Homo sapiens: one gene and its partners. The protein of the gene in region 2 purifies or fractionates together with the protein of the main gene of each other region. This does not show direct contact. Each region holds a gene or a part of one and is shown on either strand. Other genes may lie near its edges.

What was found.
Region 1: the proteins of ENTPD7 (region 2) and SPPL2B purify together in Homo sapiens (affinity purification with mass spectrometry; 2 studies listed by BioGRID and IntAct, with this or other methods). This does not show direct contact.
Region 3: the proteins of ENTPD7 (region 2) and GOLPH3 purify together in Homo sapiens (affinity purification with mass spectrometry; 2 studies listed by BioGRID and IntAct, with this or other methods). This does not show direct contact.
Region 4: the proteins of ENTPD7 (region 2) and ATP2B2 purify together in Homo sapiens (affinity purification with mass spectrometry; 2 studies listed by BioGRID and IntAct, with this or other methods). This does not show direct contact.
Region 5: the proteins of ENTPD7 (region 2) and ATP2B1 purify together in Homo sapiens (affinity purification with mass spectrometry; one large-scale study listed by BioGRID and IntAct). This does not show direct contact.
Region 6: the proteins of ENTPD7 (region 2) and GOLPH3L purify together in Homo sapiens (affinity purification with mass spectrometry; 2 studies listed by BioGRID and IntAct, with this or other methods). This does not show direct contact.
Region 7: the proteins of ENTPD7 (region 2) and NDFIP1 purify together in Homo sapiens (affinity purification with mass spectrometry; 2 studies listed by BioGRID and IntAct, with this or other methods). This does not show direct contact.

Annotation. Positions count from the first base shown.
Region 1 is NC_000019.10:2,349,184-2,352,683, forward strand, and holds part of SPPL2B (signal peptide peptidase-like 2B isoform 2 precursor), read left to right. Parts: intron 1-2,250; coding exon 2,251-2,411; coding exon of another isoform or gene 2,412-2,432; exon of another isoform or gene 2,433-2,474; intron 2,475-3,500. UniProt on the Homo sapiens protein: Intramembrane-cleaving aspartic protease (I-CLiP) that cleaves type II membrane signal peptides in the hydrophobic plane of the membrane. Functions in ITM2B and TNF processing.
Region 2 is NC_000010.11:99,680,009-99,683,508, forward strand, and holds part of ENTPD7 (ectonucleoside triphosphate diphosphohydrolase 7), read left to right. Parts: intron 1-3,500. UniProt on the Homo sapiens protein: Catalyzes the hydrolysis of nucleoside triphosphates and diphosphates in a calcium- or magnesium-dependent manner. Preferentially hydrolyzes nucleoside 5'-triphosphates, with substrate preference for UTP > GTP > CTP.
Region 3 is NC_000005.10:32,146,820-32,150,319, forward strand, and holds part of GOLPH3 (Golgi phosphoprotein 3), read right to left. Parts: intron 1-3,500. UniProt on the Homo sapiens protein: Phosphatidylinositol-4-phosphate-binding protein that links Golgi membranes to the cytoskeleton and may participate in the tensile force required for vesicle budding from the Golgi.
Region 4 is NC_000003.12:10,338,087-10,341,586, reverse strand, and holds part of ATP2B2 (plasma membrane calcium-transporting ATPase 2), read left to right. Parts: intron 1-882; coding exon 883-1,094; intron 1,095-1,237; coding exon 1,238-1,345; intron 1,346-3,228; coding exon 3,229-3,411; intron 3,412-3,500. UniProt on the Homo sapiens protein: ATP-driven Ca(2+) ion pump involved in the maintenance of basal intracellular Ca(2+) levels in specialized cells of cerebellar circuit and vestibular and cochlear systems.
Region 5 is NC_000012.12:89,702,339-89,705,838, reverse strand, and holds part of ATP2B1 (plasma membrane calcium-transporting ATPase 1), read left to right. Parts: intron 1-3,500. UniProt on the Homo sapiens protein: Catalyzes the hydrolysis of ATP coupled with the transport of calcium from the cytoplasm to the extracellular space thereby maintaining intracellular calcium homeostasis.
Region 6 is NC_000001.11:150,687,155-150,690,654, reverse strand, and holds part of GOLPH3L (Golgi phosphoprotein 3-like), read left to right. Parts: intron 1-3,500. UniProt on the Homo sapiens protein: Phosphatidylinositol-4-phosphate-binding protein that may antagonize the action of GOLPH3 which is required for the process of vesicle budding at the Golgi and anterograde transport to the plasma membrane.
Region 7 is NC_000005.10:142,111,779-142,115,278, forward strand, and holds part of NDFIP1 (NEDD4 family-interacting protein 1), read left to right. Parts: intron 1-3,500. UniProt on the Homo sapiens protein: Activates HECT domain-containing E3 ubiquitin-protein ligases, including NEDD4 and ITCH, and consequently modulates the stability of their targets. As a result, controls many cellular processes.

The DNA of each region.
Region 1 (3,500 bases), on a different chromosome or scaffold from region 2:
GCTGTCATTCGCTTGATTCCGTTCTCTCTCTCCACACACACTCGTGTTCTCATTCGCCTGATTCCGTTCTCTCTCTCCACACACACTCGTGTTCTCATTCGCTTGATTCCGTTCTCTCTCCACACACACGCGCTCTCATTCGCTTGATTCCGTTCTCTCTCTCCACACACACTCGTGTTCTCATTCGCCTGATTCCGTTCTCTCTCTCCACACACACTCGTGTTCTCATTCGCTTGATTCCGTTCTCTCTCTCCACACACACGCGCTCTCATTCGCTTGATTCCGTTCTCTCTCTCCACACACACTCGTGTTCTCATTCGCCTGATTCCGTTCTCTCTCTCCACACACACTCGTGTTCTCATTCGCCTGATTCCGTTCTCTCTCTCCACACACACTCGTGTTCTCATTCGCTTGATTCCGTTCTCTCTCTCCACACACACGCGCTCTCATTCGCTTGATTCCGTTCTCTCTCTCCACACACACTCGTGTTCTCATTCGCCTGATTCCGTTCTCTCTCCACACACACTCGTGTTCTCATTCGCTTGATTCCGTTCTCTCTCTCCACACACATGCGCTCTCATTTGCTTGATTCCGTTCTCTCTCCACACACACTCACGCGCTCTCATTCGCTTGACTCTGTTCTCTCTCTCCACACACACTCACGCTCTCATTCGCTTGATTCCGTTCTCTCTCTCCACACACACTCGCGCCCTCATTCGCTTGATTCCATTCTCTCTCTCCACACACACTCACATGCTCTCATTTGCTTGATTCTGTTCTCTCTCTACACACACTCACGCGCTCTCATTTGCTTGATTCCGTTCTCTCCCTCGACACACACTCGCTCTCATTCGCTTGATTCCGTTCTCTCTCTCCACACACTCACGCGCTCTCATTCGCTTGACTCTGTTCTCTCTCTCCACACACACTCGCGCTCTCATTTGCTTGATTCCGTTCTCTCTCTCCACACACACTCACGCGCTCTCATTCGCTTGATTCCGTTCTCTCTCCACACACACTCGTGCTCTCATTGGCTTGATTCCGTTCTCTCTCCACACACACACTTGCGCTCTTATTCGCTTGATTCCGTTCTCTCTCTCCACACACTCACGCGCTGTCATTCGCTTGACTCCGTTCTCTCTCCACACACACACTCACGTGCTCTCATTCGCTTGATTCCGTTCTCTCTCTCCACACACACTCGCGTTCTCATTCGCTTGATTCCGTTCTCTCTCCACACACACACTCGCGCTCTCATTCGCTTGATTCCGTTCTCTCTCTCCACACACACTCACGCTTTCATTCGCTTGATTCCATTCTCTCTCTCTCCACACACACACTCACGCTCCCCCGTGTACTGCAGTTGGCCCTCACTAGCCATGGGTTCCTGCAGCTGTGGATTTCACTAGCTGTAGGTTGAAAATATTTGGGGAAAAGATTTGTGTTCTTATCTGTACTGAACACATGCAGATTTTTTGGGCCAGTTTTCCCGAAGCAATGCCATGCGACAGCCATTGCCTGCGGCGACATCACGTTTGCGTTTGTAGGAACCTATGGTGATTTATGGTTTGGCAGGACGCGGGTGGGTTCTAGGCAGACACTGCACCAGTTTACGTCAGGGACATGAGCAAGGGGGTCCTGGCAGCCCTCCCCTGCGGGTGCCAAGGGTGGCCATGTGTGCGTTTGTGTATTTACATGCACACGTATGTAAATCACAGGCTGCGTTCTCAGGGGACTGGGGGCACGGCCCCGGTGGGTGGACACCGTGCCCTTTGACCCCAAACATTTCACTGGGTGTCTCCTGAGAACATAGTTTATATGCCCACAGCTCAGTGTTCAAGGGTTTTCTGGTCAGGCACATGTGTCACCTTCGGCTGATTTTCTCAGAGGTTCATAGAAACTGCATCCCAGACACGTCTCGCAGCCCCCTCCGCTATCACGTCTGCCTCCCGCTGTCCTGCAGCTGCCCGGACCCTGCCCCTCCCTGTCCCTCTCCTTGCCCTGGCCCTTCCATGTCCTCGGTGACCCTGGCTCCGGTAGGGTCAGGGTGGGATTGTGGCCCAGGAGGTGCCGGAAGGATCCATGTACTTTGGGGAGCCTGTGGCCCTGCCGGCTGAACCCCCACTGTACCTCTCCCGTCCTCGCACACCCCTGCCCTCCACCAACCCCAGCCCGCTCACGTTCTTCCCAGGGAAATGGGTGGTGGCCCTGGCCTGCCTGGCTGAGGTGATGCCTCCTCTGTCCCCACAGCCTATGGCGTTGGCCTCCTTGTGACATTCGTGGCACTGGCCCTGATGCAGCGTGGCCAGCCCGCTCTCCTCTACCTGGTGCCCTGCACGCTGGTGACGAGCTGCGCTGTGGCGCTCTGGCGCCGGGAGCTGGGCGTGTTCTGGACGGGCAGCGGCTTTGCGGTGAATACCAGTTTGCTCTGACTGTGAGAAATACTCGCCTAGTGAGCCCTAACTAGAGTTAAAGTTGAGTGAGACCTCCAGCCACAGCCAGCCCTGCGGCCGCGACGGGGCTCAGGGTCCTGGTACCTTCTGCTTTGGGTGTCATGCGCGTGAGGCCCCGGTGGAAGGACGTGCGTGCAGCTCCTGTGCCGGGTGGGATGCGGGGGTGCCAGGTGGGGCCCGGGGGTGCCGGGTGGGACGCGGGGGTGCCGGGTGGGGCCCAGGGGTGCCGGGTGGGACGCGGGGGTGCCGGCTGGGACTCGGGGGTGCCATGTCCTTTCTAAAGTTGCTTCTCCCAAATAGTAGTGCCCCACCTGCGTGGGCATCGGGCATCCATCGCCTCTCCTGCCGAGAGCGAGGCGCCTGACTGGGGGTGGGGCCGCAGGGCCCTGGACGAGGGGAGCAGGCCTGCCCTGGCTGTGGAAGCCCTGTCCCCTGTCCCCCTTGGCAAGGCAGGGGGTGGTTGGCAAGGGTTAAACGTGAGATGCAGGGAGGGCTTACGCCACGTCGGTTCTGCTCTTGTGATTTTTTGTGAACAGGAGTGGGTGGGACCCCCCCTTCCAGTGTGCCGCTCAGGTGACTTCCTGGGTTCCCGGGACTCAGGCGCATTGCGCCCGAGAGCTGCCCCCGCCCCTCCGGGCAGCGCCTCTTGGAGTCCATGACCGCCCAGGGAGCAGCCCTGCGCCATAGGGCGATCCTCAGGCTGTTGGGCATGGGTGCAGCTCCTCCCATAGCTGATCTCCCTCTGGGGGAGATGCCGCGCTTCTCAGCGGTGCTGGCCGCGCATGGGGTCCTACGTCATGTTTTTGTGGAGGTTAAACCACACCCGTCCCTGCCGCACTGGTGTGATGCATTGGGTCGAGCTGTGGTTCCAGTGCCGAGCTGGGCTCATGGGTCCCACAGATGGGACCATGGCCTGAGACCAGGCCCCAGGGAGAAGTCTCCTGGGGCCAGCACCCCCACCCCAAAGGTCTCCCCATTCTGATGGGCATTTCAGAAGGTTCAGGAGAAGCCGGGGACCAGGCCCAGGGGCGAGAGACGGTAGTCCAG
Region 2 (3,500 bases):
TTCTTGTCATTTGCTGCTTTGGGATCAGTATCTATCTGGGATGACTATAGTGATTCTTAGTTTGGATTGAGGGTTGGGAGTAGTGGTGATGGTAATAGATTTGGATCATCGGGCACATAGAGAACATAATTACAGAATAAATTAGGAAGAGGGTCACCTGATGACCTGGATACTTAGGGACTAGTCAGAGAGCTCTGGTAGGAACACTACCTTTTCTGTAACTCTGCCTAGAACCCTGGCAATAACTGGGGGAGTCCCTCTTCTTGCTGCTACTGCAAAGCTCAGTCTCCATTGCCTTAGGCCTGTTTTCTCAGCCCCAGCCAGTCACATCATTTCCACTTGACCTTTGCAATTCAGCCTGACACCTTGCCACCTGATCCCTCTTCCTGCATTAGAGGAAGAGGAAGAGAAGGCTGTATTTAGGCCAGACTCCTTGTTTGTGATTTCTCTCCTTTGGTACCACCTTGATCCGTCCATACTTACGTAGGCCGGGGGAAGAATGAGCTCCCTGACTTTTTTTTTAATGATTTTTATTTTATTGTGGTAAGCATACAACATGAGAGCTACCCTCTAACCAGATTTTTTTCTTTTTTTTTAGAGACAGGGTCTGCTCTGTTGCCCAGGCTGGAGGGCAGTGGTGTGATCACAGCTCACTTCAACCTCTGCCCCCCAGGCCCAAGTGATCCTCCCACCTCAGCCTCCTAAGTAGCTGGGACTACAGGTGGGCACCATCACACCCAGCTAATTTTTGTGGAGCCAGGTTTCACCATGTTGCCCAGGCTGGTTTAGAACTCCTGGGCTCAAGTGATCCGCTTGCCTCAGCCTCCCAGAGCGCTGGGATTTCAAGCGTCAGCTACCATGTCTGGCCCAACAAATTTTTAAGTATACAATACGTTATTGTTGACTGTGTGTACAGTGTTGTACAGTGGATCTTCAGTGCTTATTCATCTTGCTTAACTGAAATTTTGTGCCTATTTATTTCCCTTAGCATATTGTCGTTAGTGTTCATCCACCTTGTCACATATTGCAGAATGCCCTTTTTTATTTAAAAAAGTCTAAATAGTATTCCACTGTGTGTATGTACCATGTTTTCTTTACATATTCATCTGTCAGTGAACATTTAGGTTGTTTCCACATCTTGGTTATTGTAAATAATGCTTCAGTGAACATGGGAGGGCTCATATCTCTTTGAGATCCTGATTTTAAATCTTTGGAATAATTAGCCAGAAGTAGGATTGCTGGATCATATGACAGTTTGATTATTTATTTATTTATTTATTTATTTACTGAGACAGGGTCTCGCTCTGTTGCCCAAGCTGGAGTGCAATGGCATGATCTCGGCTCACTGCAACTTCCACCTCACAGGCTCAGGTGATTCTCCCACCTCAGCCTCCCAAGTATCTGGGACCACAGGCATGTGCCACCATGCCTGGCTAATTTTTTGTATTTTTTTTTGTAGAGATGGGGTCTTGCCATGTTGCTCAGGCTGTTCTTGAAGTCCTGGGCTCAAGCAGTCTGCACGTCTTGGCCTCCCAAAGTGCTGAATTACAGGCGTGAGCCACCGTACCCGGCCTATATTTTTAATTTTTTGAGGAACCTCCATACTGTTTTGCAGAGCTGCTGCACCATTTTATATTCCCACCAGCAGTATGCAGAGTTTCCAATTTCTCCACAGCCCTGCCAACACTTGTTGTCTTTTGTTTTTTGGATAACAGCCATCCTGACAAGTGTGAGGTGATATGTCATCGGGGTTTTGATTTGCATTTCCCTGATGACTAGGGATGTTGAGCAACTTTTCATATGCCTGTTGGCCATTTCTGTGAATGGAGAAATGTCTATTCAAGTCTTTAGCCCATTTTTACATTGGGTTAATAGGATTTTTGCTGTTGAGTTGTAGGAGTTTCTAAAATATTTTAAAGATAAACCCCTTACCAAGGTATAGTTCGCAAATATTTTTTCCCATTCTGTAGCTTGCCTTTTTACTCTGTTAATTTTTTCCTTTACTGTACAGAAATTTTTAGTTTGATATAGTCTTACTTGTTTATTTTTGGTTGCCTGTGCCTTTTGGTGTCATATCAATGAGACCATTGCCAACCTTAACTTTAGAATTCATCCTCCTGGAATGTTCATGGTCTCATAGGCATCAGGTATTTCCTTATTAGCTTAAATATTTTCCTTTGGTCAACAGCAGTTTTTTTTTTTTTTTACAACGTTTAAATTTTATAGTTGGCTTTCTTTCCTTAAATCAACAGCAAACAACAAAAACCTCAGCCATACATGTAGGGCTCCAAGGCTTATGTCAGACATGTAGACAACATAACATATAGCAGCAATGCTTCTTTCAGTGGACTTTTTTTCACAGTTACTGGTTTACTGACTGGTTTACTGTTGAGAAGCAGATTATTTATATAGCCATTTGTCAACATGAGAGGTTTTTTAGTTCCTTATTGCCCCATACATTTCAGTCTTTAAAAAATTTTTTGTTTTGTTTTTACTTATCTTTAAAACCAAACTTTAAATATTGTAACTGCAGCCTTAACTCCTTAAGGGAAATCTTAAAAATGAACAAAACAATACAATACAACTTACAACCCTGCTACCCTATCAAAACTGTTTCGTTTTGTTGTATTCCCTCCTTTCTGTTCACATATATGTAATTTCCACAAAGTTGCAATCATACTGTGCATGCAATTAAGAATTTTTATTTGACATAGGTGATATTCATATTGTTCAAAAATTTTAGAAACCCTGGGAAGAATATAGATGACACAAGAGCAGGTGCCACATCACAAAGTCTATAAAAGGCCAAGGAAAGGGGAGGGAGGCCAGAGAAAAAGCTGACCTGGAGGTTAAAAAGGCAGAATTGACCAGCTGAGCTGGGCAGAGGAACCCACTTGGTAGTTTGGCTACCTTTAGTGTGTTTGGAGGAAAGGAGATTGTTGCCTCACCTCCTGGCACTGTTCGGTATTACCTCTGTCAAAGAAGTTTCCATCCAAACAAAACCCACTGTGTAGCTCCACCCTTTTTGTCTAAGATGTTAGTTGTCAATGTGGAAACTCTGAATATTAATATTTATTGTATCTAAAGAATTTTTAAAGAAATTTGCCTTTTTTTTTTCTCTTTCAACTTGTTTTCTGGTCACCTCTCTAAATAATGCATACATCTGTTCTAGGCTTATAAAATCATTGCTGCCTCTAAGTCCAAGCGAGTTGTTGGCATAAATGTGACTATCAGTATAAGAACCTGTTTTGTATGATTAAAGGTTTGCTAATTTATTAGCATTTGTAAGCAGATTCAAAATAGGGTTGAACCATTTAGACTATATTTTGAATTTATTAGCATTTGGTTTTATTTCTTTGCCAAAGGCCTGGACTAACAGAATTTTTTCTACCTCCCTTTTATTTTGCAGTTAAAAAAAATCCCTTAAAAATTACACCATAATACAAGGTGGTGTTTAATAAAATAATAATTTTTATTTTAGGAAATTTCACTTGTGTATA
Region 3 (3,500 bases), on a different chromosome or scaffold from region 2:
TCTTTTGGCTTCCCTGGGCCATACTGGAAGAATTATTATCTTGGCCCACACATAAAATATACTAACACTAATGACAGCTGATGAGCTAAAGAAAACAAAAAAAAAAACCTCATGTTTTAACAAAGTTTACAAATTTGTGCTGGACCAGATTCAAAGCCGTAGGCCACCTGCGGCCCACAGGCCACGGGTTGGACAAGCTTGATCTAAAGTGTAATCTTATTTTGAAGTTACATAAATATTAATACGTATGTATATCATAGGTTTGTATTTACAAAAAAACTTATAAATGTTCACATCCTTTGACACAATTCTTATGGGCCTTTAGTTAGAAAATACTGTGCACAAAAATATATGTACAAATATATTGATCACATCATTATCATAGTAAAACACAAAAACAATCTAAAAGCAAAAAAAAGGGAATAAACTCAGCACTTCCCAAACTTTCCTGACCTTGAAGCATTTTAATTTACAGTATACTTTTAACAGCCTACAGAATATTACAATTCTATGAAAATCAGTTTTAAAAATCCTGGTGCAGGAGGCGGAGGCTGCAGTGAGCCGAGATTGCACCACTGCACTCTAGCCTGGTGACAGAGCAAGACTTCATCTCAAACAAAAAAAAAAAGAAAAGAAATCCTGGTGCAGAGGTTATTACAAAACATGAAAAATTATTATGAAATCGTGTGTGTGTGTGTAGAGAGACAGAAAATAGTCCCATTTTTTAGGGAGATTAGAAGAAAAGTTTTAGCAGCAGTAATGTCTGGTGATTATGGTGATCTTTATTTTCTTTAGGCTTTTCTGTATATAGTAAAGGAAAACTCGTGGCAAGGAGATAAGTAAGGTTTTCCTTACTGATCAACTATAGTTATAGTTGTTCAAGCTTAAAAGGCAATAGTTATGATAGTGGCAGTAATTTGACAGAGGCAAAACACTAGAAGAACTAAAAACTCTCCATGAAAATAACTATGAACCACAAAGTAAAACATATTTGTGAAGTAGTAAAGAACTGTGCTCAAGAGCCCAGACCGCACAAACACCTGGCGATTCAAATCAACTCCAGCTCTACCACATACTATATAGTTAAATTTCTGAGACTAGTTTTCTTCATATAAAACAAGTTGTGAAGATTAAATAATATATATAAAGCACAACCCCTGGCAATTAGTAATTACTTAATTATGTACAATTAGAATGGAATGGGGATGGAGGACTGCAAACTCAGTTACTTAGAAAGTACAAAGAACATGACTGAATAAAGAGACCCAGGTGTGGATTGCAGCAAGCTGGACAATGTCCTCTTCCATCTATCTGGGGAAGACAGCTTAGCCCTTATCAACTGTTGCCATGTAAAATGTGGGCCTGCTCTTGCCACATCTTTTTCAAGAGGGCAGAAACGTCCGTTTCTATATATTACTTCCATCTTTGAAAGGATTACAACTCAAGTTTTACTAAACAAAACATATCTGGCAAACCAGTTTGCAACCGCTAAACATTTTACAAAACATACTACGTTATATGAATGTTCAGTTACTAGTAGTCTGTATAGGCATAAAGTACTCAAAATAGTTTCATTTTGTTTTTATGTACAAAATATTTCAAAATGAAATCACTAAAAACACTATATTTTCTATATAAGGTTGAATTCTGGTGTGACCAATGTTTTGGAAATGGCTTTCTAATAGAAATATAGGCCAGGTCCACATGGTGGCTCACGCCTGTAATCCCAGCACTTTGGGAGGCCAAGGTGGGCAGATCACGATGTCAGGAGATCGAGACCATCCTGGCTAACACGGTGAAACCCCATCTCTACTAAAAATATAAAAAATTAGCTGGGCGTGGTGGTGGGCACCTGTAGTCCCAGCTACTCGGGAGGCTGAGGCAGGAGAATAACGTGACCCCAGGAGGCGGAGCTTGCAGTGAGGCGAGATCGCGCCAATGCACTCCAGCCTGGGCAAGAGAGCAAGACTCTGTCTCAAAAAAAATAAAAAATACAAAATACAAAATTACCCAGGCGTGGTGGCGCATGCCTGTAATCCCAGCTACTCAGGAGGTTGAGGCAGGAGAACTGCTTGAACCTGGGAGGCAGAGGTTGCAGTAAGCTGAGATCGCACCACTGCACCCCAGCCTGGGCAACAAGAGCGAAACTCCATCTCAAAAAAAAAGAAAAAAAGAAAGGTGATTGTACTTGCCAAATCTAAATGGACCAGGATGAACAAATTAAGTCTCCCTCCTGAGTATCTGAACTTGCCATACTGAATCAGTTATATGGGCATGGCACTGGAGCTGTACTGGCTGTGTGGATTCAGAAGCTACTGGCCATTGGGTACAAATGCAGAGAATGAAGGTAACAGAAAGGAAAACAGAAGACAAATGCAGAGTAGAAATGAGAGAGGATGCAATGTGAGGCAAACCAAGACATACAGAGACAGAGAGGCAGACAGGCACATACACGGAATAGCATGTTTGTTGTTTTAACCTGCTATGTTTTGTTATGCAGTAAGATAATTAATACAGTGGGTGCCCAGGGCTGGCAAAATGGGAAAAGGGAGAGGTAATGGCTAAAGGGGATGAGCTTTCTTTTGGAAGTGATAAAAATATTCTAAAATTGATTATGGTGGTGGTTGTACAAATCTGAAAACCTTGAATTGTACACTTCAAATGACAATTATATGGCATATGAATCATATCTCAGAGCTGTTACAAAAAAACATTCTATAAAGTCACTTCTGAAATCTTACATGAAATTTTGATTATGTCAAAAATTAAGAATCAAAAAGTTCTTGACAAAAATAACTAATCAAGAGAATGAAGGTGACTTCAGGTAAAAGCAGATTAAAAAGACTAGACAAGAAAAGGTATCTACAGATATAAGAACTGTTAAAGAAGTAGTAAGGCTGGGCACTGTGGCTCACGCCTGTAATCTCAGCACTTTAAGAGGCCGAGGCGGGCAGATCACCTGAGGTCACGAGTTCAAGACCAGCCTGGCCAAGGCGGCAAAACCCCATCTCTACTAAAAATACAAAAATTAGCCAGGTGTGGTGGCTCATGCCTGTAATAGCAGCTACTCGGGAGGCTGAGGCAGGAGAATCGCTAGATCCTGGGAGGCAGAGGCTGCAGTGAGCCACTGCACTTCAGCCTGGGCAAAAGAGTGAAACTGTCTCAAGAAAAAAAAAAAAAGTAGTAAAACTGCATTTGCTGGTGATATTGTTGGATATTTAGAAAAACTCATAAGAGTAAATGGAAAAATTACTATAGATAGGAGTTTAGTAAAGTAGCCAGATTATATAAAATTAAACACCAGTTGTCATATACAAACAAAATACACATGTTAAAATACTAAAAAGTTAAAATATAATTGAAAAGACCTTTACAACAGCAACAAAAAGAACAAAAAATACCATGGCAAAACCTATATGAAAAGTTTAAAGTCTCTTGAAAGACTTAAAAATAGACTTGAATAATAGAAAGATATTTCATTCTTATATACAAAGTCTCAG
Region 4 (3,500 bases), on a different chromosome or scaffold from region 2:
GTAATCCCAGCACTTTGGGAGGCCGAGGCGGGTGGATCACTTGAGGTCAGGAATTCGAGACCAGCATGGCCAACATGGAGAAACCCCATCTCTACTAAAAATACAAAAATTAGCCGGGCGTGATGGTGCGCACCTGTAATCCCAGCTACTTGAGAGGCTAAAGCAGGAGAATCACTTGAACCCAGGAGGCGGGTGTTGCAGTGAGCTGAGATCACGCCACTGTCCTCCAGCCTGGGCAACAACGAGACTCCATCTCAAAAACAAAACAAAACAAAACAAAAAGGATACAGGACTGCATCAGACACCCTATCAGCAGCGTCTACACAGCAGTGCCCTGCCATGTGACAGCTCAGGTGTTAGAATGAAGCCACATGGGAGGGTCCAGAGCCAGCCTAGCCCAGAAGTCCTGGGCTCCATATAGGAATTGGCATCTCTAGTAACAGCCCCATGAGCTTGTAGAGGTCTCAGCAAGGGACATGCTCAGGAACAAGAAGCAGCACTCTCGGGGCAGCGCAAAACCTCCCGCAGGTATCCTGTCCTCGCAGTCCAGAATGAGTTTTCCAGTCTGAGGTCACTTTTTAGAAGCCATGTCGCCCACCTTTAACACAGCCGGCCGTCCACCTTTATCGGGTTTCCACAGAAAAAGTGGAAGACAGTTGCCCAAGGCCTTTCTTCCCCAGAGGAGAAAGGGCTTTGCTGACCCTTCAGTCCTAGTCTCTGACCAGCTGACAGCACAGCCCTGGCCCCCCACTGTCCAAGCATGCCTTGATGTCTTGGGGATTCACGTCACTGCTCAGAAGAGGCCCCCACGAAAGGCCAGGCATCTCCCCTCTGATTCCCCCACCACTGCCTTCAGCCCAGCCCCACTCTCTCACTTGGCAGGCGAGAAGATGTTCCAGATCGACAGCGGGAGGAACGCGCCCCTGCATTCGCCACCCTCAGAACATTACACCATCATCTTCAACACCTTCGTCATGATGCAGCTCTTCAACGAGATCAACGCCCGCAAGATCCACGGCGAGCGCAATGTCTTTGACGGCATCTTCCGGAACCCCATCTTCTGCACCATCGTGCTGGGCACCTTTGCCATCCAGGTAGTGAGGCCCCCACCCTAACCAGGCCCGGGGTGGGCAGCAAGCGGCTGGAGCCCCTGGGCAGGACCCTGAGAGCCCAGCCCTCTGTGCTGGTCCCTGATGGCCTCTCTCTCTCTCTTTCTCTGCTCCCCTGTGACCTCCAGATAGTGATCGTGCAGTTTGGAGGGAAGCCATTCAGCTGCTCTCCACTGCAGCTGGACCAGTGGATGTGGTGCATATTCATTGGGTTAGGAGAGCTCGTTTGGGGCCAGGTAAGTTCCTGGTAGGTCGCAGGAGGTGCCTGTTAGCAGGGCAAGGGAGACAGCACTGGATGGAGAATCCAGGACCCCCAGGAATGGGCTGCCAGACCCCAGGCAAGCTCCTCCCTATCTCTGGACATCTGAGCAAGGGGGTTTGTCCCAGGTCCTATACTGGTCGTCTGGGTACTACTGCTCTGATTTTTGCCTTATATCTATCTACCACTGCTCCTGTTGTTTATGTAATATTTTCTCTCAATCACGTCAGCTTTTTTAACTTAAATTTGTTTTTAAAGGCAACGTCCTGTTACTAAGACAACTGAAAAATCAGTATCACTTGTCATAAATGGAAGCTAACAAAAACATTAATGTAATGAGAATGACATTATTAAACTCCAGCTAGAAGCCATGGCCTGCCAGGGATTCAAGGCTGGAGCAGCTTGTTAGGAAGGGAGATGAATCAGTGGTCTGCGGGCGCTGGTGGCCGGCTGGCGTCAATCAGGATCCTTTAGAGCACTCAGAGGGAACGCAAGCAGGACACACTCTGCCACATTGCGGTGTTACTCAGTGCTGTGCCTGTGGCCATCTGTGGCCTCAGTGCTGTGCCTGCCCCAGCTCTGGGGCTCCTTGGGCTGGATGCTCTTTAGGGGCCCTTCCAGCTTTGTCCCAGAATATTCTCCCACCAATTCGTTTTTCTACGTTTGCCCAAGTTCCAGACCCTGTCACAGCTCTGAGAGCATGCAGCCCAAAGGCTCCTGACCCAGGACACAGGGCTTGGGAGGAGGGCCCAGAACCAACTCAGGGCCTAAGGGGCCTGATTCCCAAGGTGCTCACACATCCAGGCAGTGGGACCCCATGGGTGGGAGGCATTTTTCTTGCCTTCAAGCTGTCTGCAGGCTAGAGTGAGAAGCTACGGGGGCAAAAATTAACTAAAAGATAAATAAGAAAGTTTAGTTTCATCCAAAAGGACTTCCTGTAACCTTTGGGGCTGCTTTGGAGAGTGATAAACCCCTGGGCACCCTGGGGGCCAGGCCATCTTTATCCCACTGGGGCCCACCCCCTACAGGAGGCTCTTGGGGGCTGGGCCCAGTAACTGAGGGAAGGATTCAGAGGACAAAGGTTAATGCCAGCGGGCAGTGCTGACTTTACACTCCCAGGGAGCCCCCTGAGGCTGCATTCATGCCAGCGCCTGACTGCTCCTACAGGAAATGGAAGGGGCCTCTGATATCTGCCACCGCAGCTTTCCTGTAGGGCCTGCGTCTGGGTCCTCAGCCCCATGGACAAGCCTTTTGGGGAAGATTAGGAATGAAGGCATAGCTCTTTCCCATTCTGCCTTCCCAGTCCAGGATTGGCTGCCTTCAGGGTCCAGTGACCTCAGGAGGAATAAGGGACAGAGGAATAAGTAACCCCAGGAGAACCGAGGGCCAGCCACGGGCCAGGCTCATGCAGGACGAGTTAGACCCTCCACCGTGCCCAGTTCTCACCATGCCCAGAGCGGCCCCCACTTTACAGCTAGGAAAACCAAAGCTCGGTGAGGTTAAATGACTTGCCCGAGGCCACAGGACCAGGGTTGTCTGGGGTATTCAAAGCCACATCTGTCCAACTCCTAGAGGCCAAGATTGTCCACTATGTACCCTGACTCTGAATGAATGAATTAAAAAGCAAATTGCACTCCAGCCTGGGCAACAAGAGTGAAACTCCATCTCAAAAAAAAAAAAAAAAAAAAAAAAGACATTGTCAAAGACTGGGCTGAGGAACAGGTGAGGTGGGTGAAGGAGTAGATTGATCACATGCCTGGGTGAGCGGGTAGGAGGAGGGAGGTAGAGGAGCGGGTGTCAGGGAGAGAAGGCCACTGGGAAGGACAGCCCCACCGTCCTGACAGACAGGGTCCCTTGCAGGTCATCGCCACCATCCCGACCAGCAGACTCAAGTTCCTCAAGGAGGCAGGCAGGCTCACACAGAAGGAGGAGATCCCGGAGGAGGAGCTCAACGAGGACGTGGAGGAGATCGACCACGCGGAGCGGGAGCTGCGGCGGGGCCAGATCCTGTGGTTCCGAGGCCTGAATCGGATCCAGACACAGGTACAGGAGGCTCTTGGGGGCTGGGCCCAGGCCTGGCCGGGGCGGGCCAGGGGATGGAGGTGAGTGTGCTTGTGCTGCCCCCCAGGGCC
Region 5 (3,500 bases), on a different chromosome or scaffold from region 2:
GATAAGTCTTTATTAAACTAAAATTAGCCAAAAACTCTGAGATGAAAGGTGTTTTATCCCCTTACTGCTATGTGTTCTCTGTCGAACTATGGAATATGGCCCCGGGATAAAGGACATTATTTGAGCTATTAGATTGTTGCATGTAGAGTAATTATATGTTGTTATATATACTTTCATAGATTCCTTGATTTCAGAGTAAGATTTACTAATTTCCTTTGACTGACAGACATGTTAACTTCATTTCAGATGCAACAGTCTCTTACCATGGGAAATGAGTTTTAAAAGGAACGGCCACTTATAACTATTGGTCTTCTGTAATATTGAACAAAATAATATTTGGTTTTTTTCCCTTACATTTTACACATGAATACAGTAAAATTGATGTTTTCACTTTTTTATTCTGGAATTTTGTAATGGATGAGCAAAAAACAATAAAAGGACTGAGGATCAGAAAGCAGAAACAAACATTTAGGTTTTTGCATCTCGGGCAAGAGTATTGACCAGATGGAAGGGAATAATTATTTTCTAGTAGCTGTCATGATATGTAATAAAGGTACTAATAGTAGCTTATTTGGGACTAGGTGGAATCTGAGGTGACATTGCCAGGAAAATAACATACAATGGTTATGGGAATAATTTTCATAAAGATAAATAACTTTAAAAAATTCACTTTTTAGCTTTTAGAAATGTTATCTATACATACCACATATATTGTTGTCTTGTTAAAATTTTTTATTATAGAAATTATCAAACATAGGAAAGTAGAGAGAATGATATACTTACTGGCCAGTTTTGACAATTACCAACTCTCGTGGTCCATCACATTTCATTTATATCTTAACACAAGAAATGGTTCTGTTATAAATGGGGACATAGGACAGGTAATCGAATCGAATTTTTGTATTTGTATTTTTCAGAATACGGTATACTCAATAGTGTCCAATATCTAATTAAATCTGAATGGTCAGTTTTTATGTTCTTCGTTGATTCTTTAGTGGCATATACATTTTAATTTTTCTGGTGGTAGTTTGTGTATTTTACAGCAGGTGCCCAAAGATAGTGTCTCTCAAATTTTGCTGTCTTCAGAAATCACAGGTATTATTATTAACTACTTTACAGTTTTCAGAATGTATTTACATATGACCTCATTTGATTCTCACAATAATCCTGTGTGGTGAGTAAGGCAGACAATTGTACTTTTTTTTGTTTTTTGTTTTTTGTTTTTTTTCTGGTAGGCAAAGTGATTTGTCTAGGCCCTAAGGTCATATAGCTAGCAGCTTTTTTAGCCCAAACTGGACTTTAGGTGGCTTCTAGATTTTGCTCATTGCTCTTCTCATTATACACGTTTATGTAAGTTTATGAAAGTTATGTATGGAAAATCAGTTTTGATCAGAGTAAATTTAATAGAGAAATATGAATGGGTTTGTTTGGGTTGAGCTTTATAAATTTAATCATTACTTATATTTGGTGTAATACAAACAGTTTGTGTTTTGATTTACTTAACAGCTGAGTGAATGTGAACGTATCTGAAATACTATATTTTTAATATTGTGGATTTTTTTAAGTTAGGAATTTTGATTTCAAAGAACTGTTGGCCTAGGGGTGTCTTAAATCTTGAATAAAAATAAAATGTGCTGTACTAAAAGTTTCTTCTTTAAATTTCTGCTGTAACTTTTTATGCACTTGTTTTTATACTATAACATGTTTATTACCTAAATCTCTTTGAAATATTCATTTGTTCTGTAATGAAATTTAGTTTAAAAGGTTCCAAATGAGGAGGTTTTAGTTCCTGAAATCCAAAACCTGGTTATAAATCTCACAAGAAAGGTGTGGTTCTCCAGCATTAATGTGCATGAAGAATCACCTGGGGGAGTTACTGAAAGTGCAGATTCCTTGGCATTGCCCCTGGAATTTTGATTCAGCAGATTTGAGGTGGGGCCAAATGCTACAGTAGTCTGCATTTTGAGAAACATTGACATTGCATTTATAACTAAGTTAAAGTTACATGGTAGAGATACCTAAATCAGTAGCAAAGTTTGATTTGTTGATGTCGATGGTTTTTGTGACAATCCTAGAACTGATAAATTGAAAATATTTCTGTTATCTATGTATGCCCAGTCTTTCAGAAGATCCATCTGTGGTTACTTAAGTTACTTATTAAGCACTGTAAACTATTAGAGAATGTTCTTTTATTTTCATGTCTTAATGTCTGCCATTTTCAAATGACTTAGACACCAGAGTTTATATTCATAAAAATAATGCATGCTGTATCCTTACAGTAGTGTGTGTTTATCCTTTAGTCTAGCTCTTTGTTAGAAGAAAAGATCGGATATTCCTTCAGACTAAAAGGACATAAGTTAGTGGATAGATAGCTCTCTTTAATTTTAGTTAACAAGCAGTTGCTCTTTCAAAAACAGCAAGTAGATCTTCCAAGAATATTAGTGATAGCATACTAATTGATAATTTACTATTTTATGCATTAAAACAGAAGTTACTGCTGTCTCACTTAAATGTTAAATAACCGTTTGTGTAGTTCACCAATCTACTCTGACTTTTGGAACTATTTTATCTAATACCATATCCACGTGAATTACCTGCCTTTAATAATTTTCCTCTTTAAGACCAGTTTTGAAATGCAGTTGTTTTTTGCTTCATTTATAACAGTATAGCAAATAGCCTGTATCTGCATTTAAAATATATTTTATAATAAAATTAATTTCAAAGCAGGTTCATCTCAAGACTGTTGGGAACCTGTTTTTGTTTGTTCCAAAACTTAGTCTTGTTGGCTACACCTTAAGGTTTATTTAGGAATCATAGCTTGTAATTTACTAAAGCTTATGGTAATCTAAATTAATAAATATTTTTGGCAGAGAGGTCCAAATAAACTGTGGGCACATTTTTTTTTGCCATATTTTTAAAAGCTATTTTCTATTAAATTTTTCCTAGGACAGTGTCAGCTATTCCAAATCGTATGTGGTGTTTTTAGTTATAAGAATATTTGGTATTTCTAAGTACAGTGACTTCCAACAATATGGTTTCTTAAAATATGGGATACCTGCTTTTGTAGTAATACTACTGTCACCTGGGCCTCTGAGGGAACAAATAAAGGTAGTGTTGAATGGACCAATGCTTGCTTACACTGTGAAATCTGAGATTACACTGCCTAACTGTAAACTGGCATGACTACTGTACAGACCTGATAAATTTAGGAGTCAAATTTATGTTTTCTGAAAAAAATAGGTCTTAAAGAAGATTTGACTGTTTAACTTGAAAGATGCTTTTTAAATACTTTTTTATTAACAATGTGGATCTATTATTCATTGTATTAACCCTGTGAGTGAGTTCTCTCTCAGGAGGATTTTAAATAATAATCTTGTACTCTCAAAACTCTCAGATCTGCTGCTTTAATCTACCTTTCATATTTGTGCCAGAATTTTCTTTTGTTTTTCAATAACCTATTTTAAACCACAGTTTCTTCACTAAAACTTTCATCTTTTTTT
Region 6 (3,500 bases), on a different chromosome or scaffold from region 2:
AGGTGGAGAACAATGGGATTCAAAATCAGTAAATTCGATTTGGACCAGATTATAGATTTTGTTACCAGGCAGAGACTTTTAGACTCTTTCCTTTAGGGAAAAGAGAATCAGCCTAATGAAAACAGCAAAGCCCATTTCATTTTTGTGTCCAAATTAAGGGCTTAATAACATTTTTATGTTCTTTGTGAGTATGTTTTAATGTGTATATAATTGCTTGTTTTTACATGGTTTGGGATTTGTGACAAGTCAAAAAAGGAAAAAATCCTAAATGTTAAATTTTGTGTCCCAAACTCCCAAACTTTTACTGGAGAGTTCCCTAAGATCCTCTGTTTAGAACCCAGTATTATCATTTTTTTAGAAACTATGTGTCTTTCAAGCAGGCACGGTGGCTCCTGTCTGTAATCCCAGCACTTTGGGAGACAGAAGGATTGCCTGAGGCCAGGAATTCTAGACCAACCTGGGCAACATAGTGAGACCTCATCTCTACAAAAAATATAAAAATTAGCCTGGCATGGTGTCACATACCTGCAGTTTCAGCTACTTGGGAGATTGAGGCGAGAGGATTGCTTGAGCCCAGGAGTTCAAGGCTGGAGTGAGCTGTGTTTGTGCCACTGTACTCCAACCTGGGTGACAGAGTGAGACCCTGTCTTAAAAGAAAAAAAAAAATTCTTCTGAGGGGTAACTACCACAGACTGGTTTTAAAATATTAAGCATCTGGCCAGACGCAGTGGCTCACATCTATAATCCCAGCACTTTGGGAGGTTTGAGGCGGGCAAATCACTTGAGGCCAGGAGTTCGAGACCAGCCTGGCCAACATGGTGAAACCCCATCTCTACTAAAGGAAAAAAAAAATTAGCTGGGTGTGGTGGCATGCACCTGTAATCCTAGCTATGCTGATGGGAGAATCTCTTGAACCCAAGAGGCAGAGGCTGCAATGAGCCAAGGTCACACTACTGCACTCTAGCCTGGGTGACAGAGTAAGACTGCCTCAAAAAATATAAACTAATTAAATTAAATATTAAGTATCATTGTCTTATGAAAACAATCAAGAAATTTAAATATAATTTGAAGAGTATAACCTTTCAAGCACAGTTAAAATTAGATACTATCTCAGTTCAATAACACTGACCTCAACTGAGAAAGTAAACATTGAGCACAAGCCTGACCAAAATAAAATAGGTTTATCTCCTGTTGAAATCAGGAATCTGCTTATTTGTTATTATTGCCTTTGGTAAGAGTTTTGATATAGATTATTAACTCATGAACAGTGTTTTAATTGACTTGCTAATGTATAAAACTTTTCATTTATTAGAATCGTTTCTTAAGTTACCTGTAAGGGGAGTAAGCCAATTACTGCTTTTGACTCCTAGTGGTCTTTTCATTTCTCATCTATTTAATTTGTGGATAATGTTTTTCAACCATCCTCTCTTTCTTGGAAAGCTTTCTCCTAGTAATGCCATTTATTGAATACTTACTACTTACTGTGAAAGAAAAGCTTTTCATCATATTTCTCATGTCACTGTGGTAAAAATTGGCAAGAAGTATTATCCATTGGAAATATGGCAATACATTTTCACTTATTTGTTTAATCACCAAAAATTTTATTGAATGACTCATATGTCATAGAAAGAGAGAACAAAAACAATTGTCCCTGCTTTTGAGGTCAATTTATGGTTTAGTGGCATAGGGATGGTTGGAGATGCTGGGAGTAGAAGCCAGAAAGTCAGCAGACCATTTCAGAACAATGTGATATGTGTATAAGTGTGTTCTGAGTAGGAAGGAAACACAGAGGAAAAGCACGTAAATCAGATGGGTGGTGGGAAGGAGCAGTAGGAGAGGGAAGAAGAGATGTTGGGAAAGACTTACAGGAGGTGATAACTCTTTTTTTTGTTGTTTGTTTGTTTGAGATAGAATCTCATTCTGTCACCCAGGCTGCAAAGCAGTGGCGTGATCTTGGCTCACTGCAACCTCCACCTCCCGGATTCAAGCGATTCTGCTTCCTCAGCCTCCCAAGTAGCTGGTATTACATGCACCTGCCACCATCCCCGGCTAATTTTTGTATTTTTGTAGAGACGGGGTTTCACCATGTTGGCCAGGCTGGTCTTGAATTCCTGACCTCAGGTGATCCAACTGCCTTGGCCTCCCAAAGTGCTGGGATTACAGGTGTGAGCCACTGCGCCCCGCCAGGAGGTAATAACTCTTAACTGGAATAAGAGTGAGTTAGTCTGTAAAGAGACAGGTTCTAGGAAAAAAGAACATCAACTGGATGTTCCTAATAATTTCAGTGATGTGCAACTGGAATAACCACAGATGTCTGAAAGCATCCCATCTCCTTTTAATGAACTCCAGTGTTTTAAAACTGAAGTATGAGAGCTGAACATCCAGTTACATGCTTTATTGTTTAAGTTTTCTAAAATTGTGAAATACAGTGTATCCAGAAAATTGTATAAAGCACATATATACAGTTTAACAAGTAGTTTGAAAGCCAACAGTCATGTAATCACCAATAGAACAATATCAGCATCCTGGAAGGCTTCTCTTATGCCTGCCCCTAATCACATGCTGCCCACTTCCCTGTAGTTTTGACATGTATGTATATCCCTAAACAATATATTTTAGTTTTGCCTGTTTTTAAACTCTATTTTATTGGGTTAATATTTTAATGTATTCTTTTGATCAATATAATGTTTGTGAGATTTGTCCATGTTGTTGCATATAGTTTAATCCAGTTCATCCTGATTAATATTTCATTACATGAATATACCACTATTCATTCTATGGGTTAATGCACATTCAAGAGTTCATTATGAACAGTGCTGCTAAAATTCTCCTGGTACTTGTCAGTTATCTTTTTTCAAACAATCTACTGTTATCCACTATACGTATGGGAATTATACGTATGAAATTCATATGTATTTTTAATTATAAAGTATGTTAATGCTACGCTTTTTCAAGCTGCTGATGATCCTCCATCAAGTATAGTTCATCTTTATTAGCAATAGGAGATTAGAAGTAAAAGCTTCTTTAAAGCTGGTAAAAAAAATTCACTAATCAAAAAGTTTTTTTTTGTTTTTTTTTTGAGACAGAGTTTCGCTCTTGTTACCTAAGCTAGAGTGTAGTGGCACGATCTTGGCTCACCGCAACCTCTGCCTCCCGCGTTCAATTCTCCTGTGTCAGCCTCCCAAGTAGCTGGGATTACAGGCATGCACCACCACGCCCGGCTAATTTTTTGTATTTTTAGTAGAAACGGGGTTTTACCACGTTAGCCAGGCTGGTGTCGAACTCCTGACCTCAGGTGATCCGCCTGCCTCGACCTCCCAAAGTGCTGGGATTACAGATGTGAGCCACCACGCCCAGCCCAAAAAGGTTTTTAAAATCAGTCACAGTCAGTCAGTGTCCAACTTGTTGATTATTGGCTATGAATGAAGAAAATTGGCCGCCTTAAAAAGTGACTCAATCCTAAAGCATTTTATTATAATTAAAATATTAATAGCAGGCCG
Region 7 (3,500 bases), on a different chromosome or scaffold from region 2:
AGGCTCAACCAGGTGTGGTGGCTCACACCTGTAATCACAGCACTTTGGGAGGCCGAGGTGGGCGGATCACTTGAGGTCAGGAGTTCGAGACCAGCCTGGCCAACATGGCAAAACCTTGCCTCTACTAAAAATACAAAAATTAGCCAGGTGTGGTGGCACTCACCTGTAATCCCAGCTACTTGGGAGGCTGAGGCAGGAGAATTGCTTGAACCTGGGAGGCAGAAGTTGCAGTGAGCCAAGATTGTGCCACTGAACCCCAGCCTGGGTGACAGAGTGGGACTGTCTCAAAAAAAACCAAAACAAAACAAAACAAAAAATGGCCAGGCAAGGTGGCTCATGCCTGTAATCCCAGCACTTTGGGAGGCCAAGGCAGGCAGATCACAAAGATCACGAGGTCAAGAGATTGAGACCATCCTGGCCAACATGTGAAACCCCATCTCTATTAAAAATACAAAAATTAGCTGGGCGTGGTGGCGTGCACCTGTAGTCCCAGCTACTCAGGAGGCTGAGGCAGGAGAATCGCTTGAACCTGGGAGGCAGATGTTTCAGTGAACTGAGATCGTGCCACTGCACTCCTGCCTGGCGACAGAGCAAGACTCTGTTTAAAAAAAAAAGCACGGTGTGGTGGTGCACATCTGTAACTCCAGCTACTTGGGAGGCTGAGGCAGGAAAATCACTTGAACCCAGGAGGCAGAGTTTGCAGTAGGCTGGGATCGCGCCACTGTACTCCAGGTTGGGTGAGCAAGACTGTCTTAAAAAAAAAAAAAAAAAAAGGCACCGAGGTGGGCGGATCACAAGGTCAGGAGATCGAGACCATCCTGGCTAACATGGTGAAACCCCATCTCTACTAAAAATACAAAAAATTAGTTGGGCGTGGTGGCACGTGCCTGTAGTAGTCCCAGCTACTCGGGAGGCTGAGGCAGGAGAAACCCGGGAGGTGAAGATTGCAGTGAGCCGAGATCGCGCCACTGCACTCCAGGCTGGGCGACGAAGTGAGACTCTGTCCAAAAAAAAAAAAAAGAGGCTAGGCTTATAGGTTCCCCTGGCATTATTTTATTTTTTTTTTCATTTTTGCCTTTTGAAACTGAGACTGTCTCAGACAGTATGGAAGCACTATTTTAGAAAGACCTAAGTAGGCCCATACTGAGTGCTGAGAAACCTGTTGCGTGTTTCTCTCTCTGAGGACGTTAACTCCCGTTCATCCATAGATGAACGCAGATCTTCTGCGGTAGATGTGTGCATGAATTTTGCCAATTCATTTCAAGTATTTTGGGATACTTGGATTTGAATTCAATGTAAGTGGGTGATGATGACACTGCCATGTAGGTTCAAACAGATTACAGAATGTTTAGTTCTGGACTTGCCTCATTACCTGCTAAAGAAGTTGCCCACTTGTGAGCATCACCAATACTCTGTATGATAGTTTGATGACATTATAGTGCAGATTTTGGAATGGTATACTTTTGGATAAATTCTCTCAGGATTATGGAGGAATATTTTGATGAGCATAAGAATTTCATCTCTGATAGGTCAAACCATATTCATGTTAAATTATTAGATGAAGTAATGATCCTGGAGGAAGGAATGAATAGTGCTTATGTGGCTTTTTTGCTTATTTTTCAGTTTCAAAAGAAGTTATATCACAGAATGCCAACATAACCTAAATGTCAAAGTTTCTTAAGTTATATGCTGTATTTGTGGCCTACATGGTCAGTGATCAAAGAAAATTTATAAAAATATTAGGAAGATGGGTAAATTATTCCTTTGAAAACTTTAATTGTGGTAAAATACACATAAAATTTACCATGTTAACCACTTTTAAGTATACAGTTTAGTGGCATTAAGTACATTCACATTGTTGTGGAACCAGTCCATCTCCAGAACTTTGTCACCTTGCAGAACTGAAACTCCATATCCATTAAACAATAACTCTCCATTCCCCCTCCTCCAGCCCCTGGAAGCCACCATTCTACTTTCTATGTATTTGACTACCGTAGGTACCTCTCATAAGTGGAATTAGACAGGATTTGTCCTTTTGTGACTGGCATATGTCACTTAGCATAATGTCTTCAGAGTTCATCCATGTTGTAGCATGTGTCAGAATTTCCTGCCTCTTTAAGGCTGAATAATAGTCCATTTTATATATGTACCACATTTTGTTTATGCATTCATTTGTTGACGGATGCTTGGTTTGCTTCTACCTTTTGGTCATTGTGAGTAATGCTGCTATAAAAAACATGAGTCTACAAATATCTTTCAAGTCCCTGCTTTCAGTTCTTTTGGATATACCCAGAAATGGAATTGCTGGGTCATACGGCAATTCTATTTTTAAGTTTTCGAGAAACTCCCATACTGTTTTCCATGGCAGCTTCACCATTTTATTTTCCCACCAACAATGCATAAGGATTCCAATTTCTCCATATCCTCAACATACTTGTTATGTTCTCTTTTTTGTTTTTGTTTTTTTGATAGTAGCCATCTAATGGGTGTGAAGTGGTATCTCATTGCAGTATTGATCCCTATTTCCCTAATAATTAGCGATGTTGAGCATCTTTTCATGTGCTTATTGGCCATTGATATTTTCTTTAGAGAAAATGTGTATTCATGTTCTTTGTTCATTTTTGAATTGAGTTTTTTGTTGTCGAGTTGTAGGAGTAATTTCTTCATGATGTTTACATTTTCAACTTTTTACTATGGAAATTTCAAACACATACAATAATAAAGTAGTGTAAGAAATTTTATGTACCATCACCCAGCTTCAGCAATTGTGAATGAATGGCCAATATTATTTCACTTATACTCACCACATTATTTTGAAACGAATCCTAGAAATCATATATTGATAAATATTTCTATGTGTAACGCTAAAAGAAAACAAATGGTATGATATTTCAAGAAGATATCACATGAGGAATATATCATGAGAGCTCTCTTGTAATCTGTGAGGAGTATGGAAACAGGATTTGTCAGTGTCGGGCTGTGGATCCATAACTAACTGTCCTTTGTATTGATTGGGCTCACTCTTGCCAAGCCTCATGCTTTGTTTTTGTAGCAGTGATAGATTCCTGTTAATCTATCCTTGTTTTCTTACCTGATCCCATGGGTGACCACTTGTTAGGCAAGATTTATTTGGCTTAATCATACTATCTGTGTCCTGAAAATAGGGCAGTGCTTCCTGGTTTGGGCAGAAACCAAGGCCCAGTTGAACTGCTCTAGGGAATTTTGCTCTAAGCTGATGCCACCAGTAGTTTAACTGCACATAACTTCAAATTGTTTTATCCTAGACATTAATTATATTTCATAATTTTATGGTAGATTATAAAGTAAATCCTACCATGAGAATAACTTCATATTTTTATTAAGAAAGAAAAAAAGTCTCCAAGAGATTCAAGTGACATCCTCAGATTTATTTGTTTTTAGGGCTTTAAAATAATTATTTTGGTTTCTTAAAATGTTCTTGTTTTACCTTTAAGCAAGTACAACAGCTTAGAAGAATTATA